Homo sapiens: one gene and its partners. The protein of the gene in region 1 interacts with the protein of each later gene in a pairwise test. Each region holds a gene or a part of one and is shown in the gene's direction. Other genes may lie near its edges. The genes, in order: PROX1, IRF4 and LBH.

Region 1 (3,649 bases):
AAAATAGCCTAGTTTAGGCCCCAAACATTTGCATGCACCCAGTTAAAGCACAAGAGGAGTAGTATAAGCCGTTAAGACGTGCAGGTGAAGAAATTGAGCCTGTTCTCTGAAACAGCCGGCTTTTTCTACTCAACTTTTAGGGAGAATGTTAGAAAGACTTGAAGTTTAGAAAGGAAAATGGTTTAGTAATTTGAAATTAAAATCCAACCAGGAACCATAGATTAGAAATGAATTTCTGAAATTTGAAACCATCCACAGAAATTGATCTTATACATTTTTAGAAGTCTTGTGGAGGCTATAGTACTTATATTAGCTAGAGCAAAACATGTAGATTAAAGACTAAAAGACTTTGGGCTCCTACACTACCCCCCTCCCCTGAAAAAAATTATAAAGTAAGTAAATTAAAAAAAAAAAATCCCTACACTACACAGCCCTCCGATTATGGTGAACTTCCTAGTGGGAGTTACGACTTGCTCTATCACTGTCATTATGTGAGAGAGTTTAGATCTTTTCTCCCCATTTTAGTTTCTAGGGGGAAAACCTCTTAGAAACTTAGCAAATTAGGGAATAAGGCAGAACTAAAATTCTTTAGGTTTCAAATGTTTTGGAAAATGTAAGTAGTCTCAACCCATTTGCTGGGAACTGCAGCACGTACAATCTCTAGCTACAATCCAGAGTTTAGCTGGAAAAAAAGAATTTTCTTCCTCCGCTTTCACAGCTTATTATTCTCCCATTTGCCTTTTTGCTGCCTCCGCTGCTCCTCCCGTGGCTGCTGTTTAGGTAAGGTTATATTGTACTTGGTAAACAGACAACACTTAGGTTCTCAGGTTGTTTGAACACTGCTTTACGTTCAGCTGCAGTACCCTGCTTCTCTGATCTTTTATATTCCCGAGCAGATGTCTTTCATTAATTTATGGATTTATCATCTTTTCTTTTTTTTTTCTTTTTTCTTTTTTTTTTTTTTTTACACCTGGCAGCTGTCTCAAGTTTCAACAGTTATTGTCTATTTTGCATTACACATAGAATTGAATGTCATCTGTCTTCACAAAGCTATGGCTAAGAGAATTGAGGCACAGCCACATGAGCTGCTGGGACAGATCTTGTTTGCGTTCCATCCCCCCTCACCCCACTCCCCTTTACCTCCTTAATATTTATTTGTGCTCATTTTCTTTCCTGGCCTTGAATGGAGCTTAGCTCGTGTTCAGTACAGCTGTATGTTTACTGAATCTATTCCATCATGAGTCATTGTGCGTGTGTAAGTATCCTGGAAACAGCTAGTGCTTTCTTGGAAGAACAGTTGCTTTTCAGCACAAGCACTTAAAAGGGAAATTAACCAATTGGTCAGTTCAGATTTATTTTGAGGAGAAAAAAAGGATTATCTAACTGTTGCCTTTTAAATGTTTCATTAGTTATTTTTAATAGTTTATTAGAAACATATATTTTATGGGAATTTTATCTTAATTACACAATAAGCAAGAGATAAAGATTAATTCTGTGTTCCATTTCAACTGATCAGTTCCAAGTATTACCAACAGGAAACATTTTAAAGCAAAAATGAACTTGAGAAATCCAAATCAGAATAATTTTTTGTTAGATAAAAAGCCTCTAAATACTGATCAAAATAAAATGGATATTTTACTTTTTTTAGATAAAAAGAACAAAAACATCTTAGCATAAATTAGATGTATTAAAAGCTTCAGGAAGTTTTGGTAGCTCAGTGCCCATCTAAGAAACACAGAAAAACACTTTGTATTTTGTATGACACCAAATTTTAAAAGATTTGTGACTTCCAATTAAATGCATGACGTTGTCTTAATGTAGCCATCTGAAAGAAAAGATTAGAACCCAGATCTGAGAGTGTCTGTCAAAGTTTGGACTTGCCTAAAACTCTTATCACAAGGCAGTCGCAGACAGCTTGCAACTATTATTTCACTTATCCATTTGGACAGATGGTCCTGAAGTGTGCTGGGCTCCTTTAGTCTTCTGTATCAGTCTAATGGAGGTTACTGGAGGGCCTTTCAGCCCTCTCCTTGGCACAAGAAGTATGTCAGTCATAAATTATCGTCTTTGTAATCATTAAGGATCTCAAACAAAAACACAAGTTCAGTTAAGCTGCTTTGGCTTACAGATATAAAATCAAAATTTCTTTCTTTAGTGTTTATTTTCAGTTTAACAAAAAATAAAAAAATAAAAAACCTGCACTACTTAACTTTTCTATTTACAGACCAAGGTGATCTTTTTAAAATTGCATGGGATATTAAAGGGAATGTTAATTGAACAAATTCTCAGCAGAATATTTGGTTAAACACCCTGTTATAAGTAGTCAAGAGCTTATCCATATTAATTTGATTATGCTTCTCTAGTAACTTTCTGGTTTCCCTCCATTCTTAAGATTAGTCACGCTAGACTTGATGAAGGTCATTTGGAAAATTTTACCTTTCCTAAATATCTGTGTTTATTTGACATTTCTGCCTAAGGGGTGAAATTTTTGTTGGGTAGTTGTGTGAGTGTGTTTGTGTGTGTGTTTGCACACACAAGCACACTTTCTTTTCTTTTTTTTCTTATTTTTCTTAGACACTCTTCTAAAAGAAAATCCTTAGAGAAGCTTCTAGGAAGGGCCCTTAATTGACCTTGTGGGGGACCACATTGATTTTCTCCACGTGCATCTTCATTTCTGATAAATTATAAAGCCATTAATTTGCTGAGGAAATGGCAGGGCCAGGCTGCGGCACAGATGTGACCAGAGCCATCCCAGCTCTGAGTCTGCTGAGGAGTGCCAAGAATCTGGGGGAGAATCAGGAAGCCTGGATTGTTATGGTTAGCCTCACATTCTCTTGGGAACTGTTTTAGTTGCTGCTGTTTACAGATCTAAAAGGTAATGATGTTTCCAGATAAATAGGCCTTCTTATTTTGGGTAAGTGGCCATTTATTGATCTGCTAACCCACATGTATTGATTTGTTAGCCCCAACTACTGCGTCACTCTCAAAGGAGTTAACTATAAATCCAAGACAGGCAAATTGTATTTGGTTTTGGACCATTGCTTTCACAAAAGCAACAGCCCCCTCCCTGTCCTCTCCATGCCAAAACTACTCTTCCCAAGTTTTAGCTATTATTTAAAAGGAAAAACAATTAAAAGGATATAATAAGATAAAAAGCAAGTGAGTCAAGATGCTCCATTAGATTAACACTAAAAGGTAAAATGTGAAACTTGCATAGCAGTGTTCAAAATAATGCATTTTATATTTTCATGTACATTAGTAGAATAATTTGCTTTAAACTGCAGAGTGTGGAGAGAAGAACAAACAGAACTGTAATTGCAAGGAAGAAAAAAAAACCTCTTATGACAAGAGTTGTGTAGTACATGTTGGGTGCATTTGTCTCCTTAGCAACAAGTGAATGTATAGATAGCCTACCGACCTAAAGCAAGGAAAATATTTTGCCATCCTCACCCTAAAGTAGCCAAGATTCTGCAACTCAATTGTGCATCCTCACCATTGCATGTGGCAACCTCTGACAGGCGACGGTCACTGAGCAAATGGCAGCAAGTTAGCAATGGATGCCATAGCCAGTGTCATATACCTTCCAGCACTCCCACCGCAGCTTGATGGACCCCCAGACTCTATGGAGGTGGGGACTGGAGGGAGGGAG
Region 2 (3,341 bases), on another chromosome or scaffold:
CTCTGTTTGTTTGGCTGTCCAGCGATCAGCCATGGCGACACTAAAGGAGGAGGAGCCGGGGACTCCCAGGCTGGAGAGCACTGCCAGGACCCACCACTGGAAGCAGGATGGAGCTGACTACGGAACTGCACACTCAGTGGGCTGTTTCTGCTTATTTCATCTGTTCTATGCTTCCTCGTGCCAATTATAGTTTGACAGGGCCTTAAAATTACTTGGCTTTTTCCAAATGCTTCTATTTATAGAATCCCAAAGACCTCCACTTGCTTAAGTATACCTATCACTTACATTTTTGTGGTTTTGAGAAAGTACAGCAGTAGACTGGGGCGTCACCTCCAGGCCGTTTCTCATACTACAGGATATTTACTATTACTCCCAGGATCAGCAGAAGATTGCGTAGCTCTCAAATGTGTGTTCCTGCTTTTCTAATGGATATTTTAAATTCATTCAACAAGCACCTAGTAAGTGCCTGCTGTATCCCTACATTACACAGTTCAGCCTTTATCAAGCTTAGTGAGCAGTGAGCACTGAAACATTATTTTTTAATGTTTAAAAAGTTTCTAATATTAAAGTCAGAATATTAATACAATTAATATTAATATTAACTACAGAAAAGACAAACAGTAGAGAACAGCAAAAAAATAAAAAGGATCTCCTTTTTTCCCAGCCCAAATTCTCCTCTCTAAAAGTGTCCACAAGAAGGGGTGTTTATTCTTCCAACACATTTCACTTTTCTGTAAATATACATAAACTTAAAAAGAAAACCTCATGGAGTCATCTTGCACACACTTTCATGCAGTGCTCTTTGTAGCTAACAGTGAAGATTTACCTCGTTCTGCTCAGAGGCCTTGCTGTGGAGCTCCACTGCCATGTACCCAGTAGGGTTTGACATTTCATTAGCCATGCAACATGGATATGTATTGGGCAGCAGACTGTGTTTCGTGAACTGCAGTGATGTATACATCTTATAGATGCAAAGTATTTTGGGGTATATTATCCTAAGGGAAGATAAAGATGATATTAAGAACTGCTGTTTCACGGGGCCCTTACCTGTGACCCTCTTTGCTGAAGAATATTTAACCCCACACAGCACTTCAAAGAAGCTGTCTTGGAAGTCTGTCTCAGGAGCACCCTGTCTTCTTAATTCTCCAAGCGGATGCTCCATTTCAATTGCTTTGTGACTTCTTCTTCTTTGTTTTTTTAAATATTATGCTGCTTTAACAGTGGAGCTGAATTTTCTGGAAAATGCTTCTTGGCTGGGGCCACTACCTCCTTTCCTATCTTTACATCTATGTGTATGTTGACTTTTTAAAATTCTGAGTGATCCAGGGTATGACCTAGGGAATGAACTAGCTATGAAATACTCAGGGTTAGGAATCCTAGCACTTGTCTCAGGACTCTGAAAAGGAACGGCTTCCTCATTCCTTGTCTTGATAAAGTGGAATTGGCAAACTAGAATTTAGTTTGTACTCAGTGGACAGTGCTGTTGAAGATTTGAGGACTTGTTAAAGAGCACTGGGTCATATGGAAAAAATGTATGTGTCTCCCAGGTGCATTTCTTGGTTTATGTCTTGTTCTTGAGATTTTGTATATTTAGGAAAACCTCAAGCAGTAATTAATATCTCCTGGAACACTATAGAGAACCAAGTGACCGACTCATTTACAACTGAAACCTAGGAAGCCCCTGAGTCCTGAGCGAAAACAGGAGAGTTAGTCGCCCTACAGAAAACCCAGCTAGACTATTGGGTATGAACTAAAAAGAGACTGTGCCATGGTGAGAAAAATGTAAAATCCTACAGTGAAATGAGCAGCCCTTACAGTATTGTTACCACCAAGGGCAGGTAGGTATTAGTGTTTGAAAAAGCTGGTCTTTGAGCGAGGGCATAAATACAGCTAGCCCCAGGGGTGGAACAACTCTGGGAGTCTTGGGTACTCGCACCTCTTGGCTTTGTTGATGCTCCGCCAGGAAGGCCACTTGTGTGTGCGTGTCAGTTACTTTTTTAGTAACAATTCAGATCCAGTGTAAACTTCCGTTCATTGCTCTCCAGTCACATGCCCCCACTTCCCCACAGGTGAAAGTTTTTCTGAAAGTGTTGGGATTGGTTAAGGTCTTTATTTGTATTACGTATCTCCCCAAGTCCTCTGTGGCCAGCTGCATCTGTCTGAATGGTGCGTGAAGGCTCTCAGACCTTACACACCATTTTGTAAGTTATGTTTTACATGCCCCGTTTTTGAGACTGATCTCGATGCAGGTGGATCTCCTTGAGATCCTGATAGCCTGTTACAGGAATGAAGTAAAGGTCAGTTTTTTTTTGTATTGATTTTCACAGCTTTGAGGAACATGCATAAGAAATGTAGCTGAAGTAGAGGGGACGTGAGAGAAGGGCCAGGCCGGCAGGCCAACCCTCCTCCAATGGAAATTCCCGTGTTGCTTCAAACTGAGACAGATGGGACTTAACAGGCAATGGGGTCCACTTCCCCCTCTTCAGCATCCCCCGTACCCCACTTTCTGCTGAAAGAACTGCCAGCAGGTAGGACCCCAGAGGCCCCCAAATGAAAGCTTGAATTTCCCCTACTGGCTCTGCGTTTTGCTGAGATCTGTAGGAAAGGATGCTTCACAAACTGAGGTAGATAATGCTATGCTGTCGTTGGTATACATCATGAATTTTTATGTAAATTGCTCTGCAAAGCAAATTGATATGTTTGATAAATTTATGTTTTTAGGTAAATAAAAACTTTTAAAAATTTGTTATGGAATGTGTGTGTGTGTTATTAAACATGCATCCTGATAGCTTTTAAAGCACTTTCTCCTGCGGTTACGTTCCTTCAGAGAGGCTGCTGTACGTGTCTCTGAAATCAGATCTCCAAGTGTTCACCTTGTTAAAGAGACAAACGCTGGCCAAGTGCCGGGCTGCTCCTCCCACACAGAGGAGTGTCTGTGAAGAGTAATCATCCTGCTCTCCCGTTAGCATCTGCCTCCTCTTCCTTTATCTGTACTTTAAAAGGTTTAGGGCTTTCAAGGAAGTTGTTTTTAATGTTTTCTTTTGTTTATATTCGAAGCTCCTCTGATTTTGGTCATTGCTAAAAAGAAGGGATATAGGTTAACTAACACTCCAAATGTGAAAATCAAATGGAAAACTGGATAAAGAGAACAGGATTTAGATGGAACCCCTGGGGATCCGTACGTCTGCTGTTGACCTCAGCTCCAAACTCTTCCTCTCTCTGAGCAGCCAGGCAAGGGAGTCTCCTTTCTCAGCTTCATCGCTTCTACTGATTACATGGCTCAGCTCCTATGCACCTACTAACTTCCAGTCCAGCAGAAAAACTCAAAGAACCAGGCTGCA
Region 3 (4,300 bases), on another chromosome or scaffold:
AAGAGAATGCGTTTAGCTTGGGAGGTGGGGGAATTTCTCTGGTTGGAGGGGGCAGCCAGGGGCTTGTCATGAAGCTGTGTTTTCATAGGAAGCACACTATTTTAACTCAGGTTGTACATATAAGCATATAAGTGATTGAAAATAGCCCAGTTATTTTTAAATAAATTATTCTCATCAATTCTTATAATTTTTGTTTGGGCTGGTTTTGCGGGGACTGATGAAAATTATGAGGGTCTTCTCTCACGGCTTCCTTCAGGGTCCTACCCCTGTCGAACCTTCGCCATTAATTCTGTCATCCTTTTGCCTGAGATAAGCTATGCGTTTCCACTTTCAAGTACATATATACGGATTCAATACACTCACTGCCTTTCTTTTAAAAAGCTGATTCACTTCAAAGCCAATTTAATTTTGCTTAGTTTTTGATCTCCCCGCGCCCCCTTTCCTCAGCCCCTATACACAGGTAGGTGAGGGTTCTAAAGCCATTTTACAGGCGTGATTGAAGCGGAGGCCACAGAGCGGCAGCGCTGGGTCCCGAGTGAGACTCCCATCATGTGGCTCTGGGGGGCTGCGCAGCTTTGACTGCCTGGACAGACGCCCAGAGCTGCAATTCCTGGGCAGTGTGGGAGGCGTTCGGCTAAAGCTCTTTGTTTCTGCTGTCATGAGCGACTCCTCGGAGAAGACGTGGGAGTCAAGGATGGGGGGCGGCGTGCACACCGCCCGCCCACACCTTCTGCCCCCGCTGCAGACCGGGCGTATGTGTGTCTCCAATGGAAAAATCCTACCCAGGACGACACCACATCCTTGCTCCCACAAATAAAACCTTCCACGGAACTCAGGGCTGCAGACCAGCCCTTCGCAAGCCAACGCGCCCCGTGGGCACTCGGTCCCCCGGCTCCGCGTCTCTGCCACCTTCCCACCGCTTCTTCTTTAACCATGCTCTTGTTTCCCCTCGCTGATCGCAAGGCTGCGGGCGAGGATTCCAGAGAGAGGCCTAGTATGGGGAACAAACGCTTCAGAGGGGTCCGAGGTGGGCTGGGGACAGCCAGTGGATGGGAAGGAGGGCGCTGGCGCCGGGCGGCTGGGGTGGAGGAGTGGCGGGTGCCCTACCCCGGCGCAGAGCAGCCGCCGAGCTGTCATGTCCCGAGCGGCCCCCGCGCCCTCCTTGCGCCCACCTCCGCCGCGCTGGAGTTCGGGGTGTGCGTGGAGGGGGCTGTGAGCGGGAAGCGGCGCGGACGCGGAGTCCGGGCCGGTGCGAGTGAGCGCGTGTGCGCGTGGGAGAGCGGCGGGAGGGGGCCGGGCTCGCAGCCGCAGCGAACCACGGCCCCGGGAGCAGAGCCGAGCGCGCCCCCGAGCCGCCGCCCGCCGGAGCTGCGAGCGCTGAAGCCATTCATGATTTTGGTGACGTTATTCCAGGAGTGGGCGAGGGAGGGCGGGGCCTCTCGGGGCCAAGCCCCGCCCCCGCCCCTATAAATACGGCTTCCCGGGCTCTTTGTGGGGCTGAGTGCTCAGTGGAGAGCGGGGAGTTGTGTCCACCTTGCCGACGTCGCTAGCCGTGGGGCTGTCCTGGGAAGGCGGACGGCGAGCGCCCGGTGTCCGCACTCGGCCGCCTGCCGTGCCCGTCTGCGCCCGTGTCATCCTCACTCGGGACGCAGGGACCGTTTTTAAATCACAGGGGCGTGTGTCAGCCTGCCCTAGGACTTCATGTCTATATATTTCCCCATTCACTGGTGAGTACCCTGCGCCTGCGGCGGGCGTCTGTCTCGCGGCGGTGGCTGCGGGCCCGGGCGCCTGCTTCGTGCCGGCTCCGGGTGCGAGGGCAGCCGGCGGCGCGGGCGCTCAGCGCTAACCCGCCGCCCGAGCCCGTGCAGGAGTCAACGTCAAGGTTGCAAAGGTGGGGGTGGGGGGAGGGGGTGCTGAGAACATCCAGACAAAGGACGTGAACTCGGAGCCCTCACCTAAGTGACGGCCGGAGGGTTTGTATTGGTTGGCGGGGGAGCCAGGGGTCACGTGTGAATCCCCCCCAATGAAACCACCCTATGCGGAGAGCTGCAGGAGGCGCGCGCCCCACTTGGCGCAGGGGGGCTCCTGCTCTTCCCGGGCCCCTCCTCTTTTTCTTTTTGTTTGCATGCAAGTCTCAACGTCGAGGCCGGCAGCAGCGGGGCTGAGCTGGTGCGGCCGCAGGGTTTGCAGAGCTCCGGGGGGGTGGGGGGCGGGAAACGCTCTCCCCACACGTAACCCCACTAAAGCCACAAGCAGCAGGGCACGCGCTGCAGCCTCTCAACCCCTGCCCTCTCCACCGCCCCTAAAAACCGACGCACATTGGTGGGGGCCGGGACTGGGAGGAGCCGCCTTCGCCGTGCTGAAGGGGAAGGAGCCCGGGCCGGGCGCGGGGCGTCGGAGGTTTGCCCCGGACTGGGGATCGGAGCCGGGAGGGATGCAGAGAGAGGCAGGCCCCTGACTGCTGGGACTTCCTTGCTGGCAGTTTCTTCCTTCCTGCTCTGGGTTAGAGGAGAAGCGGCCGGGGGCGAGCGCCGGCAGCCCCGGAGCGCGCTCTCAGGTGCGGACGTGGGGAGCTCGGCCCCGAGTCTCCGGCAGGCGCTGAGCGAAGGGAAAACCGGCGCAAGCCGCGGCGGGGTCCGGCCTGGCCCAAGAAGCGGAAAGTTCATGCTTCTCGCTTCAACTTTTCGGGCCGGCGCCACAGCCCCGAGCGAGGAAGAGCCGCCCCTACGTCAGACTCTTCACCCTGCGTGCGCTCTTCTGGCTCCTTTCTTTGGAGGTCGCCAGCAGCCTTTCCAAGACCCGGGAGGAAACTGCCTTTGCAGGGCCCAGCTCCCGAACCTAAACTTGCCGCAAAGCCCCGCATCTTCTGTTAGTCTCCCTGCCCCCATCCGTCCCAGCCTGGCAGTGTTTAGAGAGGGGACTGAACTTCCCTCTCTCAACAGTTCAAGTTCCCCCACCCCGAGGCTTGTGTACCCTTCTTGTGGGTGCCCCTCCCTTGCCTCTCCCGTGGTGTGTGAGCAGCTAGGTGCCTTATTATAGGTGAAGCTTTGAAGGCTGTTGGAGGCTTTGTGCCTTTGGCTGCTCAAAATTTGCCAAGGTGGGTGTTTGGACCCATTAAGAATATTATGAGAAATTAAGGTTTAAGTTTATTTCATCGATTAGCACTTTGCAGCTTGCAATGCTTTTATGCAGACATTAGCCCTTAACCTAACTGTGAGGTATGCACTATTAGCATCAGAGTAACAGACAAACAGGACACTTGTGGCTCAGAGAAGTTACAGGACCTGTTCAAGATCACACAGTTCTTGAGGGGCAGAGCCTAGAACCTATTGCTTCTGTTTCTAAATCCAGTGTCATTTCTTATCTATGTAGTAACCATACAATTGAAGAGGCATCTGGTACCCCTGTTTCCTTAGATACTGTCCCTCAAAAGACTCCCCCATATTTTTGTTTTAAACCATGTGCACAGGCACGATGGTGGAAAGCATTGGGTGCTGTGTAGCAGGTACCTGTATTTGGTGCTTATGTTCAGCATTATGTGCACGGGATCCTGTATGTGCCCAGAGTTTGTGCAAGGATAAGGGAATATTCGTATCCTGCTTAGAGAGTACAAGGCACTTTCACATGTCAGCCATTGGTGGGCCAGCTTGGCCCCTCTGGAAATTTCCTTTGCAGTCAGAGTCGGGTATCCTTAAGGCTTTTAATCCAGGGGATGTTTTTCAAGCTGTGAGCATGCAGCTGCTGTGTCTGGGGCTAGAGAAAGGGGATGGATGGCAGATGTGAAACTTGCAGAAAAGCTGACCCCTTGGGGCTTTAAGTGGAACATTTTGCCAAAAGGAGCACCAGAGAGACAAATTTAGGAAAGCTGTATGATTGGACTTTGTTTCCCTCCAGTTGACCTGTTATTGTTATTGTGTATTAATAATATATAGAGTTCCCCTTTGGAAAGTTCATGTGAGGATTATTTTTATTCTTAGTTGGAGAAGTGAAGGGAGATGTGGTTGAATTGGTTTTAATATAGACAGATGGACTCAGCTACCTACTGTTTTGGTTTCTCTGGTTCTGTCATTTAAAGAAACATTCAGGGTCCCTCTGTGCCAGTGGGGACTAGAGTACAGGAGAGGAGGGAAGAGGTTTGCCAGAGAGGTCTGCAGACAATGGGCTTTGTCTGTTGCGGCTGAGCCCTGGGGCTGTGGGCTTGCAAGGCGCTTCCTCAGGGTGTGAGCTTGTTTTGCTGCAAGTTCTGTTTTGAACACCTCTCTTCCTGTCTCCAGACAGTCCCCTGATCCCACAGCAGTGA

The links.
Region 2: the proteins of PROX1 (region 1) and IRF4 interact in a two-hybrid assay, tested with the Homo sapiens proteins (one large-scale study listed by BioGRID and IntAct).
Region 3: the proteins of PROX1 (region 1) and LBH interact in a two-hybrid assay, tested with the Homo sapiens proteins (one large-scale study listed by BioGRID and IntAct).

What each region holds. Positions count from the first base shown.
Region 1 is NC_000001.11:214,001,463-214,005,111, forward strand, and holds part of PROX1 (prospero homeobox protein 1), read left to right. Parts: intron 1-3,649. UniProt on the Homo sapiens protein: Transcription factor involved in developmental processes such as cell fate determination, gene transcriptional regulation and progenitor cell regulation in a number of organs.
Region 2 is NC_000006.12:408,695-412,035, forward strand, and holds the end of IRF4 (interferon regulatory factor 4), read left to right. Parts: 3' UTR 1-2,749; downstream 2,750-3,341. UniProt on the Homo sapiens protein: Transcriptional activator. Binds to the interferon-stimulated response element (ISRE) of the MHC class I promoter. Binds the immunoglobulin lambda light chain enhancer, together with PU.1.
Region 3 is NC_000002.12:30,230,038-30,234,337, forward strand, and holds the start of LBH (protein LBH), read left to right. Parts: upstream 1-1,496; 5' UTR 1,497-1,701; coding exon 1,702-1,727; intron 1,728-4,300. UniProt on the Homo sapiens protein: Transcriptional activator which may act in mitogen-activated protein kinase signaling pathway.